Linked DNA regions of Homo sapiens: region 2 is linked to region 1. The links come from fine-mapping of genetic effects on gene expression. A gene starts in region 1. The other region holds a variant in brackets. All regions are shown on one strand. Distances are from middle to middle.

Evidence for each region. PIP is the estimated chance that this variant, and not a neighbour inherited with it, causes the effect.
Region 2: its variant is fine-mapped to the expression of SAMTOR in whole blood (TOPMed, PIP 0.91).

The regions. Positions count from the first base shown.
Region 1 is chr7:112,930,914-112,947,906 of GRCh38, forward strand. It overlaps SAMTOR (S-adenosylmethionine sensor upstream of mTORC1), which reads right to left and starts at 8,962. Exons shown (of 5, transcript NM_152556.3): 1 at 8,678-8,962. The coding sequence starts at 8,837. RefSeq lists a silencer at 8,791-8,890 and enhancers at 8,920-9,436, 9,091-9,430.
Region 2 is chr7:112,812,144-112,829,136 of GRCh38, forward strand. It overlaps SAMTOR (S-adenosylmethionine sensor upstream of mTORC1), which reads right to left. Exons shown (of 5, transcript NM_152556.3): 5 at 7,004-10,230. The coding sequence ends at 9,601. Among named protein-coding and RNA genes, the nearest start is that of TMEM168, 30 kb to the left of the region's middle. The variant T/A (reference allele first, on the strand shown) is at 7,454.

The DNA of each region.
Region 1 (16,993 bases):
CTTCATAAGTTTTTAATTCATGAACTTTCATGGATATGAGCAAAGCTTTGCAACAGAGGAAAGTACACAGACTCTACTAACCACAAACAAATGGTCTTTTGTCAGTCAAATGCAGTTATTTAGTCTCTGCAACTGCATTATTTGTTAGATTTCTGGCAGTGGTTCTCAACTCTGGCTGCCAATTCTGGCTGCACATTGGAATCACCCAGAAGTTTCATTTAACTGGTCTGGAGTGGCAACTGGTCATTTAGTTTAACACTCCCCGGATGAATCCAACGTGTAGCTATGGCTTAAAACCAATGGTGTATAGCAAGGTTGTGAGCTTAAAAGCCTGGCAAAATAATATAGAGAGCAGGGGGTTGGGACAACCTTAAGAGTCCAATTTAATTAACAAAAAAAAAAACACAACAAAACAAATCAATGCATGGATTAAACTTAATATCTACAAACACTGGCTCACGGTGTATCTTCTGTTCTTGGAACAGCCTTTTATTATAAACATATCAACGATAAAAATACTTACTCCAAAATGCAAGTCTGTGAACACATCCTATAAGGCAGATGGAAAGAAATCAAGAAAAATCATAACCAATGTCACCAACATGTTATTCCCTTGTGAAAGTGAACTTCACAGGTGGGTCTATGACCACACAGAGCACTTGCTTAGTTTAATTTTCAACTTTCAAACAAAAGGATTTATGAACAGCCTTTTGGAACTTAATTTTCATATGTTCAATTAAAAAGTCTTACCCTAATTTCTATATAAATGGAAATGGATACTCACATGCTGCTCTAAATGCATGAAGATTAACCACCTATTCTAAAATAAACACAGCAATGGGTATTAGTGTATCTACACTTAAAGCACAATAGGTCAGTATAGTTTAGTGGTTGTCAGATGTTAGATTTTGTAACTAGTATAAATTTCACTTCAAATTTAAGAGACTGATATATTGGGGTTGAAAAATTTTTATCTGTAAATATAAACAAATACACAAAACTATTACTTTTTTTTTTTTTTTCTTTTTTCGGGATGGAGTCTCGTTCTGTCACCCAGGCTGGAGTGCAGTGGTGCAATCTCGGCTCACTGCAACCTCCGCCATCCAGGTTCAAGTGATTTTCCTACCTCAGCCTCACAAGTAGCTGGGACTACAGGCACATGCCACCACACCCGGCTAATTTTTTGTATTTTTAGTAGAGACAGGGTTTCACCAAGTTAACCAGGATGGTCTCTATCTCTTGACCTCGTGATCCACCCGCCTCGGCCTCCCAAAGTGCTGGGATTACAGGCATGAGCCACCGTACCCAGCTCACTATTACCATTTTTATTACCAACATACAGAGAGACATACATTATACCCACTACAACATCCTTATGAGAACAAATAAAGATACCATAATGAGTGTAAGGATATATTTACCATTATATTTATAGAAAAATAGAATGCTATTCAGAATAACTTGGACCATTTAAAAAAGGGTAAAATTAATCTAATATACTCAATTTAAGAAGACATGAGCATAAATTAGAAAACATGGGTATCCACAAGTTAAAATTTTAAAGTTATGAATATAAAAAGATAAAACTCAACTATCTGGAAATATTTACATTAGCTTCTTCTGTGCGTGTGCCTTAAATCTACAAGGCCTGGTGCTATGTACTAAGGCTACAGAGATAAAAGGCAGAGTTTTACTCAAGAAACTAAGTTTAGTAGATAAAACAGACAAATGAACTGGTAAGTTATAAATACCATAAAGGTAGGCACAATCATGCTATGGAAGCACAAGGTAAGAGGGGCACTTAGGTAGGGGCACTTACTTATGTAGGATTCTGTGCTAGGTGCTGTACACAACTGTGTTTGTGGGGATGGGGTTTGTGATGATTAATAAAAACCCAGATCTTTGTTTCAAGAGTTTACATTACAATAAACTGGCCTAAAAGACCAACCACGAAGAGGTCATTTCAAAAGAGGCCTGAAGATCGGACTCTAAACCATAATCCTTAATAATCTAGATTTAAAGTTGTTAAAAACATTATGCTGCTAAACTTCCAGTACAACAGTACTTCTGATTTAAAGAGGAACATTTTAGAAAATTTTACTTGAATTGGTGGGGGAAGGAAGAGGGGCAGGGATAATGCCCAGGAGCCATCCAATCCTTAATGCTACCCTGAAGACATAAAGACAGAATAGCTACGGTTAACATCTCTATTATTTTTGTTACTTAAGGAGGGTAGGGATCCTGCTGCTTTTGCTAATTAGCAAGGACTAGTAAAAACAGGAGCTCCAAAAGTACTGTATGATAAAACAGCAAAGTCTCCACTTAATCGTCAAATGTGAACAATGTATGAGATTGCTCTAGGAAATTAACAAAAATACTGAAGAAGATATGATTATAATAGGAACTATGTGACAAATGTGCCTGACTTATTTAGACACTATAGAAATGGCTACCAAAAGATAGAAAACTAATATAAAAATGTGTCAAAACTATCAATGAAGAAATTTAAAGACAACTTCTTAAAGTGTGCCTTAAAAACAAGTAGCTCCTTACACAGTGGTGCAGCGAGACTACCTATTATTGAAAAATCATTAACTCATTCAGTTATCTCAACTGATGTTTCACTCTGTATACTGTATTTTTATGACAGAAATAAATATTTCATAGGCACATATGAGGAAGGAATGAATGTGAAAAACAATTTGAACTCCCAGGACGAGCACATCCTTTAGTAAAGTACCCTGCTTTTCTTTGCAACAGAAAAATCTTAGTTCAATGTTTTCTCAAAAAGTGTTCCAATGATCACCTGAATTAGAATCACATGAGGGACATTAAATATGCAGATTCCTGGGCCCCAAATCTCAGATCCACCAAATTGCTTTCTGGGGACCTAAGAATCAGCATTTTAAAAAGTTCACTGGAAGATTCTGGAGCCAACTAACGTTTTAAGAACCATGGCCTTAGACGCTTTAAAGCTGCAAACATGATATATACTTATTAAAGAAAACAAATGCACCAAAACCAACTGAAAATACTGATTTGTTTGATTTTGAAAGACTGGGACTCTTTGAAAATCAAAGCAAATCAATATTTTCTTAAGAAATATTATAGTAAACATAATTTTACGTTTTCTTGAGGACTTTAGGCTGTCACTATGAACACCTTCACTCTACTGTAAATGAAGCATAAATGGCGGCAGATACAGTTCTACTACTGTGTTGGTACCCAGCACAGCAGACACCCGATCCCTGGGAGTACTCCCTGTGTTCTGTGATGGTTCCACTTTTCTTCTTCCAAACTCTAACTACTGGTGTGTTCCAAGGATCTGTCCTCAGTTCTATATTACAACCCCACTGTGCAGTTTACTTGCCTCAAAGATTCAGCCTCCACAGAGGGCTTCCAAATCCTAAACTTCCAAAGGATAGATTGCAAACTAAATCATTACCATTATCCCTATAACAAGCCAATCTGCCTGACTACCCTGTTCCTCTTGCCTCCAACTCCTACCATTTCCAAAGTGTATGCTAATAGCTATCTACATTTTCCCGGGAAAGAAATATTGGCATCATCTTTGACCCTTCTTTATTTTCACTGAAACTGCCTATTCTGATCTTCAAAGTCTGTCTTCTTCTATTTTCATCATCACTACTGTTATTTAAGCTATTATTAACTTTAGATCAGGTTAGTATAAAAGCCTCCTTTCTCCTAGATTCCTCCTACTACAATAGCTGTGTTTCTGAACCTCTTTGTCCACTGTGTACTCTGGGAGCTTTTATATATACAGATGTCTGTGTTCCACAAAGTTCCAAAGATTATACTGATGTGGAACCAAGGCTAAGAACCGCTATGTTAGTGGGTTTATTTTCCATTAAACAATCAAGGAATCTGCAACAATGCTTTTGGTTTCTAGTGTATCTTTTCAACTGCAAAAAGCCCCTAAAACGATACCTTGTCACAAAGAACACTAATAATAACAAAATCAAATAGCTAAACACTAATGTACATTGTATACCTACATGCCCTTCATTGAACTGACTATATAAATGGTCCCTTTATCTTTTACTATTACTGATTACTGAACTCTTTTCATTATTTTTCTTCTGTTGGGAATGGCAGTTCAAACTCTCCTAGTGCAAACTTAACAGGACCTTCTGTGACAACCTTCACCTTATTTATTTCAATGATCAGGCAAATATTCTATCACAAAAAGCTTTCTGATTCTATATCAGAATAAGTATAAGAAGAACACAAAAAGAAAACAGCAAAACCTCACTTGAGAAAAGAATCTGTTCAAAGTTTCTTAAGGTCTTGGACTTGGTCAAAATTTTAAAGCAGCTGTGTTTAAAGCCCACTGAGGAAAAAAAATAAGAAAAGTTCAATTAAAAGGAGTCTCATTCTAATTTTTAAAACAACTTCAAAACTTTGTTTCTGGAAAAACACCAACATCACATTCATTCTCTTATTTTTAGCCTTTTTGGTTTAAAATTATTTTAATACAAAAGTTTTTCCCCTTCCCCCACAATTCTCATTTTAAGTGTTTGCTGAAGAATAGTCAATCACAAATATATTTTTCAGCTTATCCTACACTGCCATGCTAATTCACCTGTTAAGATCACCCCCTAATTCCATGACTTTAAGAATACCTCTTTTAACAGTTTAGTACATACTTTTACTTTTTTTTGTGATTGATTTATAAGCTGCAGGTGTTTATGTGATAAACTGTTTTAAATCTGTTTGGTATGCAGAACAAGTAAATTCAGGGATTGAATAATTTGATAAAATGTCCCAAAGATATTCATAAGATAGGTTAAAAAAATAAAAACGAAATGGAATGAAAAGTGTACTTTTACTCCTGACAACTGCAGCCTTTTACATTTTCTTGGAATTTTTACATAAACGCTTTAAGTTTAGAAAGAGAAATGCCAGGCATAAAAGCAATCATTACAGGAATGGGTTCATGTGAATACGATTATGGAAAAAAAAAATCATACAAAGACAACCAAAAACACACATGGCTCTACTTCAGTTCTTGATTTGATACATATTTGTCAGGCTCATCTAATTAAATAATGAAGTCCCTGTTTGAAAAGCGAAACTAGTTTTTTTAATTAAAAAGCTGTCTATAACTCTTATACATTTAAAATATTTTTGGTTTACATGGAGGTCAAATTTTAAAAATTATGTATGCAAAGACAGAAAACACCTATATGTGCAAGCATATTTCCATTTATAAATATGGATCTATTCACTAGATAGTGAAAAACCTATCTTATGAATATCTTATGAATATAACCTCACTTTAAAAGACTGTCTCTTAACTATCAATGGCAGACACCAGAAATACCCCTTCGCATCACCACTGCTAGGCATCTCCCTACCATTTCTTTTTAGTAACTGCTTCAGATACGAGTGCTGCCTGGAACACACCTTTATCTCCAGTTCTCACTTTACCTTTAGACAAATTGGCACAGCATCTCTTAAGTGGTGAAACAAGGCAGGCCATAAACTGGGGAAGGAAAAAGTGGTAAACGAAAAGAGTGCATTAAGCCTACCTGCTACTCTTTACAACCCTGTTCACCCTTCCCCACCCCAAGCCTGTTCATCACCATCAACTAGCATCAGTTGGGCAAATGGTTGGAGAAGAGTGGAAAAAAATCTTTTCTTATCACAGCAAAAAAGAACAACACAACTTATTTTCATTGTTTTTCCTGTTTTATTTTCAATTCCACTAATAGAGATAAGGGAAAAGAAGGCTCTGTTCTCCAACCTCCCAGTCACTATCTATCCTGTCCTTAATATTCAATGGCTGTTTTGCCTCCTTATTCTACCCTAACTTATTTCCTTCCCTGCCATCTCTCCCCAAAAAACCCTCACCTTGTATAGCCCCAACTCAGCTAATCATACCTATCCTATGGATCATCCATTCCCATCAATTTATAACTTTTCACCTAATGGAAATTCTAGGGCCACTTCCTGCTTCTCATTTTCCCTCCTATTCTAACATTTGGAGTCACTAATATTAGGTTTGGAGTTGGGGGTGGGGAACCTATATTATTCCCATAAAATATGTATAGTATTAATAATGAACTACCAAAGCATCAAGAAAGTTATTTTAATATTTTTAGGACTCCGCTCACTTATCTGTAAAATGAAGAAGCTATTAGATCACCACTCTAATATCTGGCTGACAATTTCCAGTTCCTAATAATAGGGATCTTAAACTATAGATCTGAGGTAGAATACAGGAATTGTCTAAGAGGCACCCAGTTGAATCTGCTGATCAGCCATGTTTGGGAATCACTGCTAAATGCTAAGAGGTTCCTTCTAGTCTAAAACTCCAAGATCCTAAGCTGGAATTTTCACTGCATTTGCTGGTAGAAGAATTGTGATAAAAGGGGTACAGTTTCCATAGTTATTGGTGCTATAGTTCAGGTATGTTATTGATTCAATGGGCCTTTGCAGACTGATCTAGCACTTAAGCAATCTTCAGATTACAATAACAGCTGACTTGCAAATGAACTTGTAAAATATGTTTACAGACTGGGGACCATCAGCACAATACTAAGTCCTCAAAGTAAAACACTAAAAATTATTTCCTTAGTATTATTATGTGCACAGAGTTTTTCACAGATGACTTTTTTACTACTAATATTTAGCCTATATGTCAGAAATAAAGGTAGAAGGAGCATGCTCATTAGGATCACTTATTCTGCTAATTCACTGATGGGGCTTTGTATATCATTCAAGCAAAGCCTAGAGAAGTCTAGATCACCGGTGAAATTCAGGGTATTAAAGCGCCTAAAGAATAGTCTCATTCAAATGTTTAAACTGCCAGGACTTTAACTCCCCAGAAGCATACTAGATCATTCACTTATGAACTCCATGTATCTATTCTAGATCTGGTAACTTCCGATTCTCATAAACAAGAGTTCCTGTGGTTAATACTCAGGCTTAAAACATGGTTAAACATGTGGGAACTAAGCACATATAAACAGCACTTGAAGAGATGCCACATTAGTGTGTTAATTTGAGTGGAACCTATTCATTTATGAATAAATGAATAATGAAATTATTAAAAGGTAAAAATAGAAATGGAATTCTATGCTAGTCATTTTTCTCTTTAGAAAGATGCACTTAAATTTGTACAAAATAGCAGGATAAATTGCAGGAAAATGTGTCCATTTATTTCCTAATCTCTCCAAATAACATAAAATCTACAGTGAATTCCATTATGTAAGAGCATTCTTTGAATATCAAGAATGATGCAGTTGTTGCTATGGTAACTACTCATTTTATTGACTAAATTGTGGGTTTGGGTAGCATTCTTTCAAAAAACATATTTTACCATCCTAAGTAGGTCTGATAAGACTCTTTCTATTGCTATCTGTTAAACAATAACTACAAGCCCCATTTGGGGATGATTAAACAGCCTCTATTAAAAGCTAAGCTTGATTTGCTAAGGAAAGAAACCTTTAAAGTTTGAAAAATGAAACATATCAACTACATTCAAAAGAACAAAGGATACTTAGTTTTAACTTTCTAGAGTAGTTGAAACGTGTGTATAAATCAACAGTAACATGATCTTACCTGTCTGTATTCCTTCACTGCCATAATTTTCCTTCTAATCCTAAATTATTAACTAAGTATAGGACTAACACCAGAAGGCTGCTGACTTTTCAGTTTGCAATTAAGCTAAAATGAGAACCAGTGGAAAGCTTTCCTCATTTCGATACTCAGGAGAAGTCTCTCTCCCAAGCCTATGAAAACAGAATTTTCACTGTCAAAATCTTATAAAACAGCTGTGTACAAAAGCCTATATTTAAAGATATCAAGGATAACTGTAGACTCCAACTATAAACACTCTTCAGGCACAGGCAAAAGCCACTAAGGCTTCTTCCCCTATGAGCTTCCACAGAGGGGGTTCTCACCGGAACCCCATCCATGGAAGCCGAGGGTGGGCTTTATCGGCAGGTGTCTTTAGGAGGCTTCCAATACAAACGGTATTTTCAGAACCTGCCCAGATCTCTTCCTCATCGCCTAAATAAACAGTTAAGACCAAGTATTTAAGAAATGGGAGTGGGGGCCACGAGTGTAGCCCGCCCCCTTTTAACAATGTGAAGTCCAGTCAGCTAAAAGGCCTGCTGGCTTCCCAGCCCTGGAAGCCAATGCGAGGAAGGCTCGGCATGGTTGTAGGAATGAAGTACTAGGAAGGGGGTCTGATAAGGAAGCAAATGGTACAGCCGGTAGGTCAAGCGTAAAGGAGGGACAACTCAGGTTTCTTTTCGTCTTTTACAAATGGATTTTACCTGTCTTGTTTTACCTCGGCGTCTCTTGCAAAAAGCGACCCCCACCTCCTCTGTGAGCGTGTATGTGTTTGTGTGTGCCGAGACAACAACCTCAGCACCCCGGCTGGGGACAGGGGCTTGGAGGGGGTGGGGACTCAATTCCTTTACAGGCCTAGAACTCTCCCGAAGGGCCCTCAAAGAAAAGGGGGCGGGGAGGAGCGCGTCTGATGCCGACTAGGGGGCTCAGACCAGGCCCGGGAGAGCAGCAGCGGCTGGGGGGACGTGCAGATCCTTTACATTTTAATGGTGGCCTCTTTGGAGGAGGGAAGAGGTGACAAGCGGTTGGGGGTGATGAGGCCTCCCCTTCCTCCCTCACTCAGCGCGCTGTTTACCTTCTCGGTACTTCTTGCGGAGCCGCCGGTGGACGCTCTTCACCACACCGGAGAGCTTCTCCTGCTCCAGTTTCCGCTCCTGCTCCCGGGGCGGCGGAGTGTTCGGGGACCCGGCCCTCTGCGCACGAGCAGTATTTCGGCCGCCGGCCCCTGGCTCCATATCGCAGCCGCCGCCGCCGCCGCCGCCCCTCAGGCCCCCGCAGACGCTCCCCAGATGGAGGAGGTGGGGTAGGAGGAGGGAGCTGCGGAGGCAGCAGCCAGAGGAGGCAGAGGAACCGGAGCGACAGCCTTGGAGGTGGACCCTCACCCAAAAGTGCAAACTGATTGGTGGATTTTGAGGGCTGGGCGGAAACGGAAAAGGCTAAGGGCCAATGGGCAGAAAGCGCCGGCGGCGAACCCGGTTGTTTGGGAAGGCGAGCAGCTGGAGGAGGCGGAGCTTGCGGGGATAGGGAGGCTGAGGCAGTGGGAGCTCCAGGCCTGGGTGCTCATCTCTTCCCCACCCTCCCCGGATTCTGTGCGCAGGCGCTGTGGCTCGGCCTCGGGAGACGAGCTGTGAGCAACGCGCTTGCGCGTCTCAGTTTGCTTAGTTTGGGCTTTTTTACAGCTCGGCTTTCTGATGTCTTCCATCATTTTCATCCCCTACACTTTATAATCTGTTGCGATGCGGCCAGGGTGCTCTGCTTGAACCTCCGCTGCACCTTGTCACATGTAGGTTCCCTTTAGTTACTTGCGCTTTGAGATGACGTTACACTTCAGGGACCTCAAGCACACAAGCATTCTAAGGCTCAAGGAGAGGTCTGGCTACCAAATGCTAATTTAATTCTCAGGTCGACAATGGTTTATGCCTGCAGTACTACTGCTGGGCAAAGGACATAGAAAATGCGAAAAGGAGAGGGCCAAGAAAAGCAACAGGAGATGCAGGAGGACAATAAGGAACGATGGAAAACTCACAGCAGATGCCCTCAAGAACTTTTGTAGTGACCACGGTGTTAATAAGCAGCCTTCCCTGATCTTATTCGCATCAGCACTCTGAGCTTTTATGGTCAGCTCAGGTGACCTCCTGTCCTTTAATTTGGAGAGTTAGTCTATGCGGAGTGTATCTAAGTGGGTTTGGTAACCTGTTCACCCTCCTCCACTTCTTTTCCATCTCTTGGGGAACGCGATTGTTGACTTCTGTCCCAGAAAGGTGGAACACTGCTCTCTGGAGAGAGGTAGACTGCATTGGCTCCTGAAGTGGTACTGAGGCTGCTGGAGTGTCAGAGATTGAATAGACTGAGAGCCCCTAATGAGTTGTGTTGGATTGTGTACCACTTCCCCATTGCAGGTGTTGGTTACGTGACAGTCTATGGAAATGATTGCAATGGTAACATTTTGATAATGATTTTCTAACTACGAATAAAGCTTGCATTATGTAACTGTTTTATATGCTACCTTCTTTATATTGAATACGCTGAAGAGCAAAGAATTATACACACTGTCTAGGACACAGGAGAAGCGGGAGGTGAAGGGAGATTGATGGAATTTAAAGGCGGAAGATGTGTCCCTACAGCACAGTGAAGAGACAGATCAAACACAAAGACAAGGACATATAAACTTCAAAAGAACTCCTTATAATTATGAAGAGAAGTTAAGCGGAAGTGCCTAATAAATTGAAAATATGGTGGTCTTATTTGGGGGAATTTCATTTGGGAAGAAAGGGGAGCTTGAATTACATGTCTCTTTTGGCTCTTTCCATATTTTAATACATATGGAAGGCAAATAATGGTGCAGATATTCGAAAGATACAATGATAGTAAAAAGAGCATTAAATTTCACTTGTGCTGAACTGTAGTTTTATTTTTTAAAAAAGAACTTTTCAGCATAATACTAGCAAATGAACTTTTAAGGCCTCTTAACTGAAGATGTTCACTGAAGGAAATTTGGAAAATACAGAAAAGAGTAAAGAAAATAAGACATCTGGACTGAGAGATAACAACTTAACATTTTTTCTTTGTTTGTATATACTAATTTCAAATAGGATATTTCTTGATGCCTATGTGGCAATCTATTGTATGAATAGCCTACTATTTCATTAACCAATTCCCAGTTATTGTAGATTTATGTTTTTTCCAGCTTTTTTGTATTACAGATAATGTCATGACAAACACATTTGCACACAAGTATTTGTCCATTTCTTTAATTATACATTCCATCAGGCTAAATTCCTAAAAGTTCAATTTCTGAAGCAAAGGGTCAAACATGTTAGGGTTTTGATGTATATTATGAAATTGCCTTTTCTGAAAGATAGTAGCAGTTTATGCCATGTCCACTAGTACCTATGGGTGTTTATTTCATTGCACCCTTACCAAAGGTAGGTATTACAATTTACAAAGTCATTAATGAGATTTTAAAAACATGTCTATTTTTTAAATAAATATGTGGAATTTCCTGCTGTTTCGTAACTAGCTATTCTTATTGGTATAATATTTAACTTAAAATACCAACGTAAGAATAAATAAAAGGAACTTATTTAAGACTATCTAGTTGTTGTTGTTCAAGCAGATTGAAGAGTCCTACCTTTTAAAATTACTTTTTGACTTCACACTTTCTTGAAAAGCAACCGAAGAAATAACAATTGGACAGCCAGATTTTATTTTAAAGAAAATGAAATCTTTTTATTTTCTTTAAATTTTTTATTTAAAAAATGTTTTATTTAAAATTTTCATTTAAAAAATTTTAAATTTTTTATTATAAAATAAAGATTTTATTTTAAAAATAAAAATAAGATTTATTTTATTTTATTTTATTTTATTTTATTTTATTTTATTTTGAGATGGAGTTTCACTCTTGTTGCCCAGGCTGGAGTGCAGTGGCGCATTCTCGGCTCACTGCAACCTCCGCCTCCTAGGTTCAAACGATTCTCCTGCCTCAGCCTCCCGAGTAGGTGGGATTACAGGCATGCGCCACCATGCCCGGCTAATTCTGTATTTATAGTAGAGACGGGGTTTCTCCATATTGGTCAGGCCAGTCTCAAACTCCCGACCTCAGGTGATCCACCCACCTTGGCCTCCCAAAGTGCTGGGATTACAGGCGTGAGCCACGGCGCCAGGCACAGATTTTATTTTAAAGATGCGTGAATTCAAATGAGGTATAGGCCAACATGTCCTGAGAAATATTTTAAGGTGATTTTTTTTCCACTGACTATCCACCACAGCACAAAAGGGAGTTTATAACTACTTTCCTCCTGTGTAGTTAGCAATATTACAAAAAGCTTTCTATCTGTTAAGGTTGCTGAGGAGTCATAATGGAATTCTCCATTTAAGTGAAACAACAGTCCTAATTGCTGATAAAATGGATTCACTGAAGGAAGCAGGCTTGGTGCCATATTCAATGAGCATATCCTATGCCCAGGAAAATGTCAGCAACTTTCCCCACTTTGTGGTGACAGGTTTTTATTTACTGTAAATATCTTGTTTTAAAAAATTCTCTCATTATTTTAAATGCCTGTTAGGGAAAGAGGATGTTGGAATAAAACACTCTTCACTGAGCAGGACAAACCAGTCTGGGAAGTAGAGGCTTTTCTAATGACCGCTCTAAACCCCTGATAAGTAAATTTCTCATCCTCATTCTTTGCCTTACCTAACCAGCTTCTGTACCTAATTCCTTACACATTAGGTAGGTCAAGTAAGCTTCCTTTGTTCAAGAACCACTCAGTACAGAAAAAATGTTTTTGGTGAGAAAAATACCTTGTCATCTTTGTTTACAGTTATATTCTTTATAAGTAACACAAATTCCTACAAAGGGTGTAAAGAGTCAACATATTGCAGTAATAAAATATGTTCTATTCCCAGTGTGAGTTTGAAAAAATTAATGGGTGATGAAAAGTCAACTTAAAAATCCATATCAAAATCTGGGATGAGGCACTGAGGTAACCCGTAGATTCTGGGTGTGCTTTGTAAAAGTGTTGTACATTTCATTCTGACCCTCTTGAGTGTTGCTGTAGAAGAGAGAAGACTACATAATAGAAGTTGGGGTTCTTGGCCAAATTTGGTGGCTCACACTTGTAATCCAGGCACTTTGGGAGGCTGAGGTGGGAGGATCACTTGAGACCAGAAGGTCGAGGCTGCAGTGAGCCATGATTGTGCCGCTGTACTCCAGCCTGGGTGACAGAGTGGGACCCTGTCTCAAACAAAAAAAAGAAAGAAAGAAAAAAAAGAAATTGGGCTTCTTTGAATAATCTAAGGCATTATTTATTTTTATTCTTCAGTGACTTGGTATTATCTACTTTGCTTTGGCCCTCTTTATTATAAAAATCATAAAAGCAATTAGACTTTAATGTTGCATAATAAAAGTATTAATATTAAACTTCTGTTTCTAAAACATAAAAATGTTAAAACAACAGTGTATGTCAATTGTGCAAAAAGACTTGATCAGCTTTATTATTGAAGATACAGCTGTATTCCAAGCTGGACAAATCTTTGGTTCATGACTATTTAGAAATAGAATCTTTAGGAATTCAATTAAAATGAGGACTGGAAAAGTAAAATCTATGTCATTTTGAAAATATTTACCACTGTTTCCAAAATTCTTACCCATGAATATAAAAATATCCATGAAGTTTAAATGATTTTTTGTATTCAGAATTTTAAAAAGTAGATGTATCTTTAGTTGAGCACATTATAGAGAAATTGTTAAGCCTTTTGTTTTTCATATTTTATTTCAAATCATAGAAACTTTCTTTGGAAAATTCCGTATTTAATGTTTTGATAGAGACAAACAGTGGAGAACTAACAAGAAAAATATTTTTAGTGATATATTTCTATTCAATATGGCAGATTACAACTTAAAAATCCTTCTATTGATTAAAAATTAAAAGGGTTATTTTCTTTAAAAATTTATGTCTTTAACTACTATTTCAATGACTTCCCTGCAATTCATAATTTAACTGCGAACATTAAAAGTATTCAAAATAACACATAGATTTGTTATCTTTCAAAAGTTAATAGACTGGTGTTAACCAAGTGACAATCATTAATTAATGCTTACCTCAAAATACAATTATAAAACATACTATTTTGTGATATACTAATTAATGAAATATATCTGATAATCATAACAGGGCTAATGTAGGAATAGATCTACATAAAAAAGAAGTACACTTCTTCTAAGTGATAATGTCCTTACAATGAAATGTAGGACTAAAATTTTCTGTGTCCTAATTCCAGCCTTGCATTAACCAACAGAGCAAGGTTCTCTGAGCCTTATTTATCCTCTGTCAAATGTAAAATGAAGAGATTGGATTTGACTAGTGTTTTTCAATTTTTTTTTTACTGTGACTCTAGTAAGAAATACATATTACCTGATGGCACAGGACACTTAGACATATACGCTACATGTATATATATATATGTACTCTACATATATATATATTATAAATATATATATATAAATTTATACCCACATATATAATGAGGACAAAAGTTTCACCAAGCAATACTTATCTTCACTAATGCAGTGCATGGTGGTATTTTCCATTCTATTTTTAGTTTTTTAAAACTATAGGGTGTACTACGTTGATTTTATGGCCCTCTAATGAATCACAGCCTAAAATTTATAAAATACTGGCAATTGGAAAGATCCCTTTCAGTCCCCAAACCACAGTAATTCTATGACTCACATTGATTTTGAGAAAGCTTTATGAGATGTACCTTACCATGTTGAGTCTACTCATTCCTTTCAAACATCATTTTTACCTTGGGAGATTTCTTACATTCTGAATGCGGGCTCAGAGAAGTGACCTAGACTCTGCTAACCATAGTCTCTGAATGAAGTGTCTATTTGGAAGAGAGCAAAATGACGAAATAGAAGCCATAGGGAATCTTTTGGCCTGTTGAGGGAGAGTGGAGGTGTAGTTCTTTTAGGATCACCAAGCCCAAGGGTCTACCTTCCAGTGTCTAACATTTGCTTTATAAGCCAAATAATAGGGGCAATGGGTCTTTCCCAGAGTAGTTGCTGGGTCGACTTATGTGGGGATCTGGGCTGCGTAGTCTCCAAGTCTGCCTCTCTGATCCTTCTGGAGATCTGGGATGCCTTTTCTATTTGAACTCGCTGAAGTGAGTTGTATTTTTTTATTGCACAGAGGTGGCTAGTGCTGAGACATTCTGGAAGAGAATTAGGTGATCGAGAAGCAGTGTTTGCTAGCTTTCTCTGTGACTTGAAGTGATCTGCTATCTGCTAGGTTCCTTGGTTTCCTAGCTGTCAGATAATGACGACTTACCATTCCTACCTCACAAAGTTGTGTGAATAAAAAGAAATTACGGACTGAAAGTGTTTCAAAAAGTTAAGAAAGTACAAATGTGAATAAATGGTATACATGTAAATTGTTTCTAAGGGGCCAGAAAAAGTGAAATTTTTCTAAATGCAGGAAGCTAAATTTACACTTCTTTTATTAAATGTACATCAGTCTCTTTTTAGATTTTAATAGTTTGTCACTGACTTCCCATTTTTTTCTTTTCCTGAAGGTAGAACATATTCCCATATTAGCTCTGAAATTACAAGGTTTTATATGTCCAAGTATGAAGTAATCACCATATAATTCCATATAATTCCTAAAGTTGACTGTTATCTCTCCCCCAAAGTTTTTGTAAGATAATTAGAATAAATGTTTTATGAAAAGCCAGATCAAAATTTACTACCATATTTTAATAAACATATTTCTTTTTTAAAAATTATATATATTTAATTATTTTTAAAAAATTTTTCTTTTTAGAGATAGGGCCTTGCTGTGTTGTCCAGGCTGGAGTGTAGCAGCGCAATCATAGTTCACTGTAACCTCAAACTCCTGGGCTCAAGTGATCATCCCCCTTCAGCCTCCTGAGTAGCTAGGACCACAGGTGCATGTCACCATGCCTGGCTAATTAAGTTTTTTTTTCTTTTTTAGAGATGGGGGTCTTGCTGTGTTGCCCAGGCTGGTCTTGAACTTCTGGTCTCAAGGGATCCTCCCTGCCTTGCCTTTCCTAAAGCAATGGGATTACAGGCATGAGTCATTGTTCCTGACCACATGATGTTTTGATATACACAGTGGAATGGTTACTGCAGTCAAGCAAGTTAATATACACATCTTCTCACATAGTTACCTTTCCCTCGTTGTGTGTTAAAAGCACCTGAAATCTATTCTCTCAGCAAATTTCCAGCATGCAGTGCAATACTATTAACTATAGTCCTCATGCTATACATTGGATCTTTAGTCTTACTCTCTAGACTTATTCATCCTACATACAACTACAGCTTTGCACCCTTTTACCTCCATCTCCCCATCCCCTTTGTGTGTTCCCAATCCCCACCTCTAGTAACCACCATTCTACTCTCTGTTTCTATGTATTTGTCTTTTTTTTGGAGATTCCAAATGCAGTTTTAATTTACTTCACCATGTAATTCAAATCACTACCATTTGAAAGTGACCATATCATTCAAATCACTACCATTTGAAAGTGTGCAGGGGCCTTATTAATTATTATGCTAAGACAACAGGCATACATTGGGACTTTCTCAGACAAACTGAGATGTGTGATATGTGGCCACCCTTCTTACACTTCAGTAATTTCTACAAAAACAGGAGGACAGATCAACAACCCGGTAGAAAAATGGATAAAGGATATGAACAAATGATGATGATGGCAATAAGAGTAACCGCTTACATGGTGCTTATTATGTTCTAGGCACTGTTCTTGATATTTCTGCATACGAATTATTTTATCTTTACAACAACCCTATGAGGAAACTGAGGTACAAATGAAGAAACTAAAGTAAGAACATTTAAGTAGTTCATACAAAGAAATATAAATTGTTCTTAAATATATCAAAATATACTCACCTCATTCATAGTAAAAGAAATAAAAAACTGTGCTCTGATGACATTTTTCATCTATGAGATTTACAAAGATCTAAAAATTGAGAATATACATTTTCTATTGCCTTTGGATGGCAATTTGGCAGTAACTATCAAAAGTATAAATATCTATACCCTTTGAGGTGTCAATCTCATTTTAAAGAATTTATTCTTCAGCTATGTACATACATGTAGGAAATTATGATTGTACAAGGTTATTTATTGTGGAATTTTTGTAGTGGCAAAGAATTGGAAATAATCTAAATGTCCCTCACTAAGACACTGATTAAATAAATTATGGAACATCCTTACAAGCCATTTTATGGCCCTACATCCAGGGCCATAAAAATGAATGGGGAAACTTTTAATGTGCAGATCATGGAGGATGAGAATTGGGTTCCTGGGAGGCAAGAGTGGGAGGGATGCTCTGTATTCTTCTATAATTTTGG
Region 2 (16,993 bases), 120 kb before region 1:
GGTTGAAGAGATCATTTAGGTAAATACTCCTTTTAAAGATGTAAAAGCTAATGATGGTTTACAAACTTAAATTCTTACACTAGCAAGGAGTGGGAGCTGGCCATTGGAGAGAGAGTACTGACGGACGTGGTAAGAAAGTAGGATTTCAGGTTTAGATATAATTCATTTTAATGAATGTGTGGGAATACACAGAAGAGAAATTATATGGCTCCAGGTTACTTAGTATTGATCTAAGCTTCAGTTTATACAAACCAATTTAGACTTTCCTGAAGTATAAATTGAGTTATATCTTAATTATGAGAACATATTAATAAACTAATTAATATAAACAGGACTAGACTACCCCAAAAGATTCATAAACTAAGCAGCAGCAGTGGCCCTGTATCATCACAGTTGCATTTTGGAAGGTAAAATTAACCATTTGGAAATATGTATTCCATCACCTTCTTTATGCAAGGTACTTATTTAGGCTGAAGACACAGGACAGAAAAGGGCTTTGCCCATATATACAGATGAACATGGACAAAGATAAACTTCAGATAATTAGAGCTATGCAGAGACTTTATGGTATTGTGAAGAGACAATTTTCGATTATGTGTAATAGGAAGGTGTCCCAGAGGATGTGGCATTTAAGCAGAGATTTGAATAACAAAAACAAACTAGCCATGGAAATAAAATGTAGGAGGAAGAAATTCTAGGCAGAGGGAGTAGCTAGTGCAAAGGTGGTCACATGATGTGTGTGGGTGTGTGTGTTTCCCCCTAGGACTCTAACACAGAAGGTGAAGGAGAGAATGGTGGGAAGTTGCATTGGAGAGGTACGGAGGGGCTGCATCATTTACATTTGGCCCCTTTATGATAAGGGGTATCCATATTAAAGTAAATTGCCTCTAGATGGGTTAAGAACAGTGTGTCATAAAAGTCAAGTGAACAGGTTTCATTTATATGTACCACCAGATGCTGCAGTGCAAGAATGTTTTCTGTAATGTTTGTTTTTATTTTTTGCCTTGTATTAATGCTAGTGTATTTAAGTTTCCACTGTCAGCCCCTGAAGAGCAGAGCAGACATCTGCTCCTTCTAGTACCTAATCCAGTGCCATAGCACAGAAATTCTCAACTAGTGAATCAATATTGATTGGTGTAGACTAGTTAACTATGTTATTGCCACAAATGACATCTAACCTGAGCTAGTTATCCCACAAATAGTCCTCACAGTTATGAAAAGGGAACCACAGTGTGTGATGTTCCCCTTCCTGTGTCCATGTGTCCATGTGTTCTCATTGTTCAATTCCCACCTATGAGTGAGAATATGTGGTGTTTGGTTTTTTGTCCTTTCAATAGTTTGCTGAGAATGATGGTTTCCAGCTTCATCCATGTCCCTACAAAGGACATGAACTCATCATTTTTTATGGCTGCATAGCATTCCATGGTGTATATGTGCCACATTTTCTTAATCCAGTCTATCATTGTTGGACATTTGGGTTGGTTCCAAGTCTTTGCTATTGTGAATAGTGCCGCAATAAACATACGTGTGCATGTGTCTTTATAGCAGCATGTTTTATAATCCTTTGGGTATATACCCAGTAATGGGATGGCTGGGTCAAATGGTATTTCTAGTTCTAGATCCCTGAGGAATCGCCACACTGTCTTCCACAATGGTTGAACTAGTTTACAGTCCCACCAACGGTGTAAAATTGTTCCTATTTCTCCACATCCTCTCCAGCACCTGTTGTTTCCTGACTTTTTAATGATCACCATTCTAACTGGTATGAGATGGTATCTCATTGTGGTTTTGATTTGCATTTCTCTGATGGCCAGTGATGATGAGCATTTTCTCATGTGTCTTTTGGCTGCATAAATGTCTTCTTTTGAGAAGTGTCTGTTCATATCCTTCGCCCACTTTTTGATGGGGTTGTTTTTTTCTTGTAAATTTGTTTGAGTTCTTTGTAGATTCTGGATATTATCCCTTTGTCAGATGAGTATATTGCAAAAATTTTCTCCCATTCTGTAGGTAGTCTGTTCACTCTGATGGTAGTTTCTTTTGCTGTGCAGAAGCTCTTTAGTTTAATTAGATCCCATTTGTCAATTTTGGCTTTTGTTGCCATTGCTTTTGGTATTTTAGACATGAAGTCCTTGCCTATGTCCTAAATGGTATTGCCTAGGTTTTCTTCTAGAGTTTTTATGGTTTTAGGTCTAACATTTAAATCTTTAATCCATCTTGAATTAATTTTTGTATAAGGTGTAAGGAAGGGATCCAGTTTCAGCTTTCCACATATGGCTAGCCAGTTTTCCCAGCACCATTTATTAAATAGGGAATCCTTTCCCCATTTCTTGTCTTTGTCAGGTTTGTCAAAGATCAGATAGTTGTAGATATGTGGCATTATTTCTGAGGGCTCTGTTCTGTTCCATTAGTCTATATCTCTGTTTTTGTACCAGTACCATGCTGTTTTGGTTACTGTAGCCTTGTAGTATAGTTTGAAGTCAGGTAGCATGATGCCTCCAGCCTTGTTCTTTTGGCTTAGGATTGACTTGGCAATGTGGGCTCTTTTTTGGTTCCATATGAACTTTAAAGTAGCTTTTTCCAATTCTGTGAAGAAAGTCATTGGTAGCTTGACGGGGATGGCATCAAATCTATAAATTACCTTGGGCAGTATGGCCATTTTCACAATATTGATTCTTCCTACCCATGAGCATGGAATGTTCTTCCATTTGTTTGTATCTTTTATTTCATTGAGCAGTGGTTTGTAGCTCTCCTTGAAGAGGTCCTTCACATCCCTTGTAAGTTGGATTCCTAGGTATTTTATTCTCTTTGAAGCAATTGTGAATGGGAGTTCACTCATGATTTGGCTGTTTGTCTGTTATTGGTGTATAAGAATGCTTGTGATTTTGCACATTGATTTTGTATCCTGAGACTTTGCTGAAGTTGTTTATCAGCTTAAGGAGATTTTGGGCTGAGACAATGGGGTTTTCTAGATATACAATCATGTCATCTGCAAACAGGGACAATTTGACTTCCTCTTTTCCTAAGTGAATACCCTTTCTTTCTCCTGCCTGATTGCCCCGGTCAGAACTTCCAACACTATGTTGAATAGGAGTGGTGAGAGAGGGTATCCGTGTCTTGTGCCAGTTTTCAAAGGGAATGCTTCCAGTTTTTGCCCATTCAGTATGATATTGGCTGTGGGTTTGTCATAAATAGCTCTTATTATTTTGAGATACATCCCATCAGAAGGGATAGCATTAGTAGATATACCTAATGTTAAATGACGAGTTAATGCATGCAGCACACCAACATGGCACATGTATATATATGTAACAAACCTGCACGTTGTGCACATGTACCCTAAAACTTAAGGTATAATAATAATAATAATAAAAAGAAAATAATAAATAAAAAGGGAACCACAAGGCCTACTAGATCAGTGAAAATTCATTTACTCAAGACAACTCCAAGTACATAATGTCTTAGGTAATACTCTATATAAAGTGGTTTGTCACAAGAGCTGTGCTTGCTTTCTTTTGAATTTTATGCTTCACATTCTGTGGGAAAATGTATTACACAGTATCTCACAGAAGTATTACTATTAACCTATATTTACTTATAATACTATCTTCTATAGCGTGATGTTAAAATTTGATAAATTTTAGGGAGGAAAATGTTTGTCTTTCTTTTTTTCTCAGACAAGCTCTTAGTCTGTTGCCCAGGCTGGAGTCCGTTGGTCTAATCTTGGCTCACTGCAACCTCCGCCTCCCAGGCTCAGATGATCTTTGTGCCTCAGCCTCCCGAGTAGCGAGGACTACAAGTGCATGCCACTGCGCCTGGCTGATTTTTAAAATTTTTGTGTACAGATGATGTCTCACTATATTGCCAGGCTGGTCTTGAGCTCCTGGGCTCAAGCGATCCGCCTACCTTGGCATCTCAAAGTGCTGGGATTACAGGTGTGAGCTACCACACCCAGCCTGTTCATTTTATTATAAATAATTTGTTGGAACTTTCTCAGTTATAGAATTGATGTTAGCAGTTCATTTAACCGTAAGACTAAAGGGATGGTTTGTGACATCCTGACTCCCATTCTGTATCTCTTCATTCCAACTGGCACCATTCCCTAGGCCCACAGGGTCTTCCCCACTGCCCTCCCCTCCCCCCACCTGCCCTCACCTTTTCTGGTCACAAGCTCCAGACCATTCCACTTTCCTATCAAAATATGTCTTCTTACTTCCAAATTCCCAAGTCCCTGTTCTACTTCCAACACACTGTACTCCAGTACTTTAATCCGTGGTAATGATTCAGTGGAGCCAGAGAATATAAAGCTCATTATACAGTTAGTTAAGCTGTTAGGCCCTCTTTCTGTCTTAAGCATCTTTCTTCTTGCAGACAGTCTCAAAGATTTTTCCTTCTTCCAGTAATCACCCATTTATTTCCAAGGAATGTTTCATCCATGCCTAGCTTTAGGAAACATGTTATTGCTTGGATTTCTATTGAAAATATGTGTGGCAATTTGGAAACCATTTTTTCCTGACTTCATTATTCTTTCATGTTTTAGCCTGTCAATGCAAACTCTATTATCCAGAGATGCATTATAGAACAGGAGTTTAAGGGAGAAGGAAATTAATATTGGCCATGGTCATGTTCGTATTCTTTTTCCTTGTAGAAGACAACAGGCATAGCTAGAGTGGCATTAGCTAACTGTAAAAAGGATTTGTAGGGCTAGGGATGAATGTAAATGTAAACAACTTAAATGTGGATTCTATTATAGCTTCACATAGAGTATCTGTGACCACAAATCATATTCTTCTCAGTAGCTGATTTCCCACACCAGTTCAAAGGGCTACAGAAGAAATACTGTCATCAGGACACTACGAATAGTTTACTTGGATATATGCAATAAAAGGATGCAAGTATATTTTCTCGCATTTTCTTCCTAAAGAGTTGCAAACAGGGCTGGATCTAGAAAATACTGTTTCCTTTTTTTGGGGTAATGCTCCCTGCCATTTTTATGGTTTACATGGGCATTCCAATCCATCAATAGATTTGTTTTACAGCTTTCAAATTATTAATGACAAATTCAAGAAACAATTCTGCAGTCAATGCCTATGGTCTAATTTTTTGTAGTTTTCCTTTAACTTAAAAACCATAGAAAGAAGTACCATCTTTGATACTACTGATGGGCCCAAACTTAAAAATTTATGATGCAAAATAGTTTTAGCTATCATTTATGATTACTAAAAACAACCATTGACAATAAATATTTTATACTATCACAAAAAGCAGACTAGCTTTCTCATAACTTAGCAAAGGTGTTATGGTTGAAAATAAAATTCAAAATAAGTTGAACTGCTTAACTCATAATTACTAAAAGTTCATACTCTATAGTGCCATATGTAACAAGATTCTCATTTAAAAAAATAGATGCATACTAATTTAGAAACTACTGAGATGGTTATTTTCCTTTTTTGAGACCTAGCTGTCACCCAGGCTGGAGTGCAGTGGTGTGATCTCAGCTCACTGCAACCTCCGCCTTCCAGGTTCGTGCGATTCTTGTGCCTCAGCTTCCTGAGTAGCTGGGATTACAGTCACATGCTGCCATGCCTGGCTACGTTTTGTATTTTTAGTAGACATGGAGTTTCATCATGTTGGCTAAGCTGATCTCGAACTCTTGACCTCAAGCAATCCACCCACCTCGGCCTCCCAAACTGTTGGGATTACAGGCATGAGCCACCCAGAAAACTACTGAGATTCTGAAACAAATTTAGAAAAAAGCATACAAACCAAAGTTTAAGGTACATTTAAAAGGCTTTCCAATTGTTGAGATTTCCATTTCTCTGCCAAGAGAAAAACAGGGTTTAGAAAAACCAGCGTATCTCCTTTTACGCATTTAGAGATCTTTAAATTGTTAGCTATTGTAGCCTGCTTGTTCACTGGGTTTTGTAGTGTGTATATATATAGGCCACCACTAATATACTTCGGGAGCTTTGCATTCACAGTAGCTCATGGATATGACTTTAACATGAATTATCATACTATCATGGTTATGGCAATTCAGTTTTTTTTAAGAATAAAGTTATTATAATACAAACATTCCTTGTAGTAAATGTTTGTATTATGGGTTTTTTTTTTTTTTTTGTAACAAAGAATTTGTTTTCTACCTTTGTTATCATTTAACAAGCAATTTACAAAACCAAGAAGGAACCAAATCTTTGATTTACATTTCTGCTGACCTAGTGTGTGGACTCTTGCAGAGGAATAGCATTGCTGCATAGTGCTCAGAAAGTGTGGGAAAACGGAACAAAAAGCTTGAATCCATTTTTTTTTCTGCTTTTACATCAGAATTTATATTTAGGTTATACTTTCCTAGAGGAATGAACAATACATCTCTCTTATCCACAATGTGTAATTTGCTAGTTTTGTGTTTAAAGCTTTTCTTATTTCCTGTTCTACTTCTGTGAATTAAGGATTTTAAGCAGGGGCAAAACTGTAGCATCAGCAGGTAATCATTCTTGGATACAGATACTAAGTACATGTAGCATGCTTGTCTTCACTCTTAGGTCATAAGCTCCATGAGAGCAGGGGACAATGATCACTCCAATCCTTGCTGCTTTCCCAGCATATAGCACATGGCAGAATTCAAACATTTGTTTAATAAACAACAACAACAAAAAACCTTTCATATCATGAGGAAGACATCTGCTGTCCTGAAAGAGCTGATAAATTATGTAGCTTACTTAAAAAAAAAAAAAGAATATGATATGGTTGACATACAATAAAGTAGAATTTATGCTGTTGCCCTGCTTCTGCCATAAACATGACAAAACATGACAATGGGAAGTCACCTGAGTTCTCTGGATCTCAGTGAATAAATTTATGACATTAAGGGATTTAACAAAAATGAAACCCAGTGGGAAAATTGTACAAGTCACTCAAGTTCTAAATTGCTTCCCAATGCTGAAATCACTTAGTGAGATACATCAAAGACCACAGAACTTTCGGTTTACAAGTAACAGACAAAGAATACTAGAAAATTTAAAATTTTTAATAAATGTGCTTTGTTCACAAAATGTGAAAAAATACAACAAACACACACGTACATTTTCAGGTATGCTACCTCCCACCACTTGGCAACTATGGTAAAACCACATGATCTAGTCATGATACTGAAGAATCCAACCAAATGATTACCATTTGTTTTTGAAACAACCAAATTATTTTGGAGAACCAGCTGTGAATGTGACAGGAGGCCTCATAACTTCTTTATATCCAAAATGAAATAATTCTTAGGAGTACCCATACAGTATTAGAAGGCCCTATTAACTTCCACTTGTTATTACATACATGATCTGGCATCAAGCTGCAATGACTGCTTATACTTCAATACTTATACACTGAATTGGTTTTTGTGGAATGTGTATCAGTTTAAATCTGTGCCAACCTAATTGGAATAAGCTGAATTTACAGTAACAAA[T/A]GATATAAATTCAAACAAATTTATACTAAGTGGTAGTAGGTTTTATAAAGAGACTTCCTCAGAGTACTACGTAAAATACATCATGCACACTTTGGAGCATAAGCAGAATCAACATCTGTAAACAATCAGAATTTATAGCACCAACATTTTCGCTGTAACACAAAGGCTGACTCCAGGGTCATACTATACCAGCCTTTCAAAAGCGCTGTTTTCATTTACTTTCAAAGCATTTTCATTTGGTGTATTGTTTTCTTTGCTCTTAAGATATTTACCCAAATCAAAAAGCAAACAGTATGGTAAAAGGTACTACCAAAATAGTTCAAAAGAGTTCTGTATTATCCTTAACATAGTGCTTTTTTTTCCTTCCCCTTCTCTTGGGGAAGCTACAAGACATAATCCTTCAGTGCTTAACTGGAAAGAACAGTCAATCCTAAATATTAAAGAATCTTATGCTGTTGAAAGTAAATGAAAAATTTCGAGTTATTTGTGGCATATTTGAGCAACCAATATTTATTGCATTTAATCAACTGACTTTAAAAAATTACAATCTTGTTACTTTCATTAATTTAGCATGTGAAATTTAATTAGAAATACTGGGTACATACACTCAACCATTTATATCATAAAGGATAAGTTTTATATTTCTAAATAAAGTTTGACATTCAAAGGTACTACGGCAATTCACAATAAGCACAAAAACATCAGCTTTACCAGAGTAAAGAAGTGCAGTTTATGAAATTTAGGATCAACTATTGAAAATGCAAGTTTCCTTTAAAAACATACAAACATACGCACAACATTAACCATGAAATCTGAAACTGTGATATTTCAGTGCAAAAACCTCAGTATGAGGTAATTTTAATGTAATAACCACTTGAAAAAAAAATCCACACAGTGGCACTCTTAAAAATGATAGCTTCCATGACAATTGCTGGCTGACAAGACAATGTGGACTAAATGTTCTTAACTGTTTAAACTAATCTTGTCTTGTTTGGACATATATTTTTCCCTAATCATTTGCTTCTGATTCAGAAACACAGAAAGGCATTTATTAATGTGGAAAGGGAAAATTCCCACAGCCAACTAATTGATATATTCAAAGAAAATTTTCTGATAAAGTTTAGATAGAAATTAAGATACCAAAAGGTCAAAACCATTTTATGAGATCACCAACAGAGGGTTAATTTTAGGTTTTTCCATATAATTTGAAACTTGTAGTGCGGCACCTCCTTAACGGAAAGGTGAGGACCCTATCAAAGTTGGTTTCAACAGAACATAAACTCTCTTCCAAGTGCAAACCCTTTCAAAAAGGTGTTTTAGGTCATTATTGAGTATTACATTGTTCCTTGCTTAAATAAAACATTTTGTAAATGAAGCCTAAGTTTAAGAAAAGTAAAAGTGAACTCTCAGGTAAATATACTTCACACCAAGGCCCAAATCAACAAGAAAGTTATGAAAATACTACTTTGGCAATGGTGTTTATTGGATAGGGCTAATAAAATTAGAATACACACTTTGGGGGACATCTCTCCCCCAATGTCTGATGCTGTCAAATGAGCTTTTAATATAAGGAAGAAATAAAAAGAATTATCACCAATTACAAAAAGTTCAGTAAATATTGGATCATCAGACAAAAAAGGAACATAAAATGACTTTCTGTAACATCACAATTTTAGTTAGAAAAAAGAAAAAGATAAGTGCATCACAAAACAACTAACCGATCTATTTTTCTGTATCACATTTAACTTGTGAGTCATCAAAGTGCAATCTACAGCTTTCTACATCTTAAAGTTTTCCATTCAATGGTTTATAGTCAACACTGAAAAGTTGAAAAGGAAAACATATAGCAAATTATGCTTGTTTTCACAATAGCACTAAAGAGAAAAAGGTACCTTTCTATGATAGTGCTAAATGCTAAAGTAACAGTAGTTTCTGCTATGACATGAGTCACTCTGCATGAAACTTTAAGCTTTCTATATAAGAATAAATTTTAAAATTGAGAAGTAGAAAAAAATAGCAAACTCTGTAAACCTCTGCATTTCTTTTATGCAAACCAGGTTTTCAGTACTGAGTTCATGTTAGTATTTCCAATTGGTGTAAGCAATTAGTTTAGGAGCCTGGACTGAAAGGGGCTTTTTGCTTCTATATTAACTTAAAAGTAATATGGGGTCTTCTAGCTCATAGAAAGGAATAGAGCTGGCTTGACTTTCTCCAGAATCTGAGTCATATGGCGCATCAGGGAGTTCTGTGAAACCATATGCTAGTTGTTCATCTTCTATATCTGATCGAACATAGCAGGAAGGGTTAGAATATTCCTCATCTTCTATACTGTTGAAATCTTGAGGAATATATAACATTCCTGGGTAGTTCCTACTAACCAAGTCACTTGTGGTTTTTAGAGAGATTTTCCTAAATGCCATCAGATGCATATGTGAAAATTTTGAGTACTTGAAGCGTTTAAAGCCCAGGGACTCTATAGCAATCTTCCAGCTTTTCATCATCATAGCATGACGGTTCTGATGGGAGGAATCAGGTGTGATGATTAGTAATAAACCATTTAACACTAACAGTTCATGGGCTTTCTTGCAGCAAATCCATCGCTGGTAAGGAGATGGAAAATAAGAAAGAAGGAGAGAGAAAACAACCACATGGAAAAGCTCTCCAGGAAGAGAATCAATAGGGTTTTTCAGCTGCTTCAAAAAAGCATCTATAGCATCCTGTGCAAGCTGGAGTGGTTGCTGAAGCTGTAAGTTCAGGAAATCACATTTATAGACACTCTGCAGAAACAGAAAACAAGGCATATTAAGAACTTCAAGATTATTTCCACTTTAGTACATAGACTTTTCAGCAAACCATTTCACATATCATAGTAATTCCAGCATTGATTATACATTTTTCCTTTTAAATTATTAAACTTGAACAGATGTATTCAACCACAACTTTTACAAAAATCTCAAAGTAATTAAGTCCAAAGACCTGCTAATCATCATTTAAATATATGTTTTTTGCCTAACAATTTAAAATGGGAAATAATTTGTGTATTTTGGGTTGGGACTTACATGAATTTTAATTTGGGTAGGAGTTTACAGGAATGACATTTCTATTTACATTCACTTTAACATTTACAGTTACCAAAAACAAACTAATATAAAAATGCTAAACAAGAAATACCATGAAATAAAGATGAATCAAATAAAGAGGATAATGAAAGAGGCATTATAAAATTTGTACAAGCAGAATGATTCCAAAACTTTAGTTCTTTGAAACTGTTAACTTTAACCATTTAAAAAGTAACCCTCAACATTACTTTTATTCTATTAAAAAGTTAATCCCTAGTTTGGAACAAACTAGATTTAGTTAGACAAATGACCATGGGAAACAATACAACAGAGGAATGAATAACATTATATAATTTGCTAAATCTTAAAACTATGGAAATGAATCAGAATAAGCAATTTTAAAATTAGACAAAAATAACTCTATCATATACCAATAGTTATTAACAAAGATATGACCTAATACCTTAATCCCTCACTCATGTTAGTGTATATACAAGCCGGCCACATAGTCATCTGGACTGTTTATTAGGAAAAGTGATATGCAATGTTCTAGTACCTGAAAAAAAGATGCTTTTCTTCTTCCCTTTTTCTTAAAGGCAGCTTTATTGATGTATAAGTGACAAAAAGCATAAGTCTGATAAGTTGTGAGGTATTTTTACACTCATGAAACCACTGGCATGGTCGAATTAATGAACAGATCCAACACCCCATAATTTTCCTTATTCCCCTTTATAGTCCCTTCCTTCTCTTCCCCTGCCAGCAGGCAACCATTGAAGTTTGTATTTCCTAGAATTTTATATAAATAATCATTTTGAGATTTTTCTTGCAGGTATTAATAGTTTATTCCTTTTTAAATTGCAGAATGGTATCCCATTGTATCAAGGATGTACCACAGTTGGTTTATCCATATACACCTGTTTATGGATATCTGGGTTGTTTCTAGTTTTGGTTATTACATTTCAAGCTGCTGTGAGTATTCCCATACATGTGTTTGAATCAACATTCTTTAATTTGTCTTGGGGAAATATCTTGGGTGGCTAGATCATACAGTAGGTGGTGTAGTAGGTTTAATTTTTAAATAACTCCCAACTGATTTCAAAAGTGGTTATGTAGTTTCATGTTCCCACCAGGAGTATGTGAGAGTTCCAGTTCCTCCAAATCCTTATCAACTCTTGGTATAGCTAGTCTATTTCATTTTAGTAATTGTAATAGATGTGTAGTGGTATTTCAGTTTTAATCTGCATTTTCCTAATGAGTTAGTGACATTTATCATCTTTTCCCGGACTTATTTGCCATCCAGATATCTTCTATGTTAAAGTGTCTGTTCAAATATTTTGCCCATTTAAAAATAATTGGGTTGCTTTAAATAAAGTTTTAAGTATTTTCTTTCTGGGTTTTGAGAGTTCTTTATTCTTGATGCAAGTCCTTTATGATATATGACTTGAAAATATTTTCTCAGTATCATGTGGCTTATCTTTTCATTCTTTTAACAGTGTCCTTTGAAGAGCTGAAGTTTTAAATTTTGATGAAGACTAATTTATCAATTTGTTCTTTCTTAGATGTTGCTTTCAAAGTCAGGTCTAAAAAGTCTTTTCCTATCCCAAGGTCATAAAGACTTTTTTTCAAAATGTTTTCCTTTAGTAGTTTTATAGTTTATGGCTTTTTCATTTAGGTCTATGATACATTTTGAGTTTTTTTTGTTTGTTTGTTTTTTTGTTTTTTTGAGATGGAGTCTCACTCTGTTGCCCAGACTGGAGTGCAGTAGCGTGATCTTGGCTCACCGCAACCTCCGCCTCCTGGGTTCAAGTGATTCTCCTGCCTCAGACTCTCCTGAGTAGCTGGGACTACAGGCACGCACCACCATGCCTGGCTAATTTTTGTATTTTTTGTAGAGACAGGGTTTCACCATATTGGCCAGGCTGGTCTCGAACTGCTGATCTTGTGATCCGCCCACCTTGGCCTCCCAAAGTGCTGGGATTACAGGCATGATCCACCACACCCAGCCAAGGTCTTTTTTTTTATATGGAGTGTGGTATGGTTTGAAGTTTCTTCTTTTGTATATGGATACCCCTTTGTTTCAACACCATTGTGGAAAAGACTATGCTTTCCATCTTGGGCAAAAATCACGTACGTAAGTTTGGGCTTATTTGTGAACCATCTATTATATTTCACTGATATTCCTGAACATCAATACCATGCTGTCTTGAATACTGTAGCTTTATAATTTTGAAATCAGGTAGTGTTACTCTCCAACACTGTCCTTCAAAGTTGTTTTGAGCTATTATTCTAGGTCCTTTGAATTTCCACACAGATTTTAGAGTAAGTTTTTCAATTTCTACAAAAAAGCCCACAAGAGTTTTGATGAGGACTGCACTGACTCTATACAGACAGGGTCTCACTCTGTCACCTAGGCTGGAGTACAGTGGTGTGATCTTAGCTCACTGCAACCTCCACCCTCTGGGCTCAAGCAATCTTCCCACCTCAGGCTCCTGAGTAGCTGGGACCACAGGCGAGTGCCACCACATCTGGCTAATTTTTCTATTTTTTTTTTTGTAGAGACAGGTTTTTGCCACATTGCCCAGGATGGTCTCGAACTTTTGGACTCCAACAATCCACTTGCCTAGGCCTCCCAAAATGCTGCGGTTACAGGTGTGAGCCACTGCACCCACCTTAGGTCATCTTTACTTTCTCCTAATTTGTGGTTTGCAGCATGTGGATTTTTCTACTTTTGTCAGATTTATGAGCTACATATTTCATATATACTCACATATAAAATAAACATTTCATATTTTTGATGCCAGAGTATGGTACTGTTTTTAGTTAAAATTTCTGATTGGTTGCTGCTAGTATATACACACAAATTTCTGTATATTGATCTTGTCTCTTGCAACCTTGCTAAACTCATTTGTTAGTTTTAGGAGCTTCTTTGAAGATTACACAGAAAAATCAAATAGATGATCGATGACACCTGTGAATACAGTTTTACTTCTTTCCAATGTGCATGCTGCTTATTGCTTTTTCTTGCTTTACTGAATTGTTAGAACCTCTAGTACAAATGCTAAATAGAAGCTGTAAGAGTAAACATCCTTATCTTGTTTTTGTGAGAAAAGCATTTTTCTTTCACCATTAAGGATGATGTTAGCTGGAGATTTTTCAGATACCCTTTATCAGGTTCAAGAAATTCCCTTAAATTCTGAGTTTTTTTTTTTTTTTTAAATCAGGAAAGTCCAGATGTTGAATTTTGTCAAAGCTTTGTCAAATGCCTTTTCTGTGCCTACTGAAATGATCAAATGACTTTTTCTTTTTGAGTTCATACGATAGATTGTTTTTGAATTTTAAACCAAGCTTGCATTCCTGAGATAAACCAAACTTGGCCATTATATATTATCCTTTTAAAATACCTTGTTGGATTCAATTTGCTGAAATTTTGTATAGAACATCTGTATCTATATTCATAAGGGATATGGATCTGTAGTTTTGTTTTATAACATTTGTCTGATTTTGATACCAGAGTAATGGCCTCATAGAATGAGTTGGGAAGTATTCCATCCATTTCAATTTTATGGAAGAGAATATATATAATTGGTATTATTTCTTCTGTAAATATTTGGTAAATTTTAACATGCAGGCGTTAGTGCCTGGAATTTTCTTTGTGGGAAGGTTTTAAACTGCCAATTCATAATTTCTTCAATAGATTTAGGGCCATTCATCTTATCTGTTTCTTCATGAATAAGCTTTGGTGGTTATGTCTTTCAAGGAATTGGTCCATTTGAATTGTCGAATTTATTGGCATAAAGTTGTTCAAAATATTTTCTTATACTTTTAATGTTGGTAAAATCTGTCATGATGTTACCTTTTTCTCTTTACTTCTGATCAGTAGGCTAGAGTTTATAAATTTTATTCATCTACTCAAAGAACTAGCTTTTGCTTTCATTAATTTTCCCTATTTTTCTGAAAGTTTTCTATTTCATTTGATTTCTGCTCTGATCATTATTTCCTTTTGGATTTACTGCTCTTCTTTTTTCTTCTAGTTGAAAAGTTGATGTCATTGCTTTGAGACTGTTACCTAATAAAGGTGTTTAGTGCTATAATTTTCCCCTAAGTACTACTTTTGTGACTTTAGTGACATCTATGCATTTTGATATCTTGTATTTTTATTTCAAAAAAGTTCTAATTTCCATTGTGAATTCTTCGCCAAGTGTTCAGTATACCTGTTCTAGGAATTATTTAGAGGGGTGCTGAAATCTCTATAATTTTATCAATGTTTATGTTTCCTTGACAGTTTATCAGTTTTTGGTTTACATATTTGGAAGCTTTGTTATTAGGTGCATAGACCAAGTTTGGTTTAGGATTGTTATGTACTCTTGATGAACTGACCCTTTAATCATTATGGAATGTCATTTTTATCCCTGATCATATTCTTTGCTCTGAAATATACTTTGTCTAATTTTAATGTAGCCATGCCAGCTTTCTTTTCTCCATCTTATTGCTTTCACTCTATTTGTGTCTTAATAATTGAAGTACATTTCTTATGGGCAACATATATTTGGGTCTTGGCTTTTTTCCCCCAATCTGCCAGTCTTTGCCTTTCAATTGGGGCATTTAGGCCATTTCTATTTAATGTGTTGATTGATGTGATTAGGTTTTAAATCTATAATCTTGCTATTTATTTTCTACTTGTCTCACTTGATTGTTGTTCCCTTCCCCTCTTCCTTCATCTTTTGAATTAACTAAATTTTTTATGATTTTATTAGCCTTGTTGGCTGATTAGGTATAACTCTTTTATTTCAGCAGTTGCTTTAACTTATCAGTCTACCTTCAAGTGATATTACACCACTTAATGTATAAGAACCTCAAAGTACTAATATTATCACAGTGGACTGGTTCCAGGAACCACTGTACATACCCAAATCCACGTTCAAGTCCTTTATATAAAATGGTATATTTGCATACACCCTATGCATATCCTCCCATATATTTTAAGTCATCTCTAGATTACTTATAATATGTAATGCAATGTAATGTTATGTAAATAGTTGTTATGCTATATTATTTTTATTGTTGTATTGTTATTTTTATTTATTGAGACAGGGTCTCCCTCTGTTGCCCAGGCTGGAGTGCAGTGGCACAATCTTGGATCACTGCAGCCTCAACCTCCAGGGCTCAAGCGATCCTCCCATCTGTCTCCTGAGCAGCTGGGACTACAAGTGCACCATGCGTGGCTAACTTTTTTATTTTTTGTAGAGATGGGGTCTTGCTGTGTTGCATAGGCTGGTCTCAAGCTCCTGGGCTCAAGCAGTCCTTCTGCATTGGCCTCCCAAAGTGCTGGGATATTACAGGTGTAAGCCACCATGCCCTGCCGCAAATATTTTTGATCTGTGGTTGACTGCATCCACAGATGTGGAATCCAAGTATATGGAGGGCCAAGTATATTTCTGATTCTCTCATGTCACCCTTTATGCTACTGTCATAAATGTTCATTTTATCTATATTAAAAACCCCACTCTATATCATTATTTTTGCTTAAGTTGTTGTATTAGTTTGCTAGTGCTGTTGTAACAAAGTACCATGAACTGGGTGGCTTAAACAATATAAATTTTCTCATAGTTCTGGAGGCTTAGAAGTCTGAGGTCAAGATTGTGGGAAGATTTCTTCCTTTTGAGGGCTGTGAGGGAGAATCTAATCAATGCCTCTTGCCTTGCCTCTAGTGGTTTGCTGGCAATCTTTGGTGGTCTTTGGTTTATAGATGCATCTCTCCAATCTCTGTGTTCATCTTCATGTGACGTTCTCCCTGTGTGCTTGTTTCTGAGTTAAAATTTCTCCTTTTTATAAGTATACCAGAGTCTTATTGGACTAGGGGCCACTGTAATCACCCCTGTTTAATTTGATTACCTCTGTAAAGCTCCTATCTTCAAATAAAGTCACATCTTTAGAGTTAGAACTCCAACATATCTGTTTTAGGTTGACATAATTCAACCCGAAACAATGGTAAATTATCTTTAAAGAGTTTAAACAACAAGAGAAAATCTTTTTAGCTGTATAGTTATCACTTCTAGTATTCTTCATTCCTTTGTGTAGAGCCATATTTCTAACTGGCTAAAGCACTTCCACCTTAACATTTCTTATAATACAAGCTTGCTAATATTGAATTTCAGCTTTTACACATCTGAAGAAAATCGATTTCATCTTCATTTTTGAAAGACATTTTGGCTGGGTATAAAATTCTAGGTGACTTTTTCCTTCAGTACTTTAAGGTGTCTTTACAATTTCTGGGAGCTTTTAAGATTTTATCACTAGTTTTAGAAGTTTGATTTGATGTTCCTTGGTGTAATTTTCTTGATGTTTCTTTTGTTTGGGGTTTGTTGGGCTTCTTTGAATTTGTGAGTTTAAAGCTTTAATTAAATTGGAAAGTTTTTGGCCATTTTTTCAAATCCCCCACCTTTTGGGGGATTCCAATTATGCTTATATTTAGTTGCTTAGA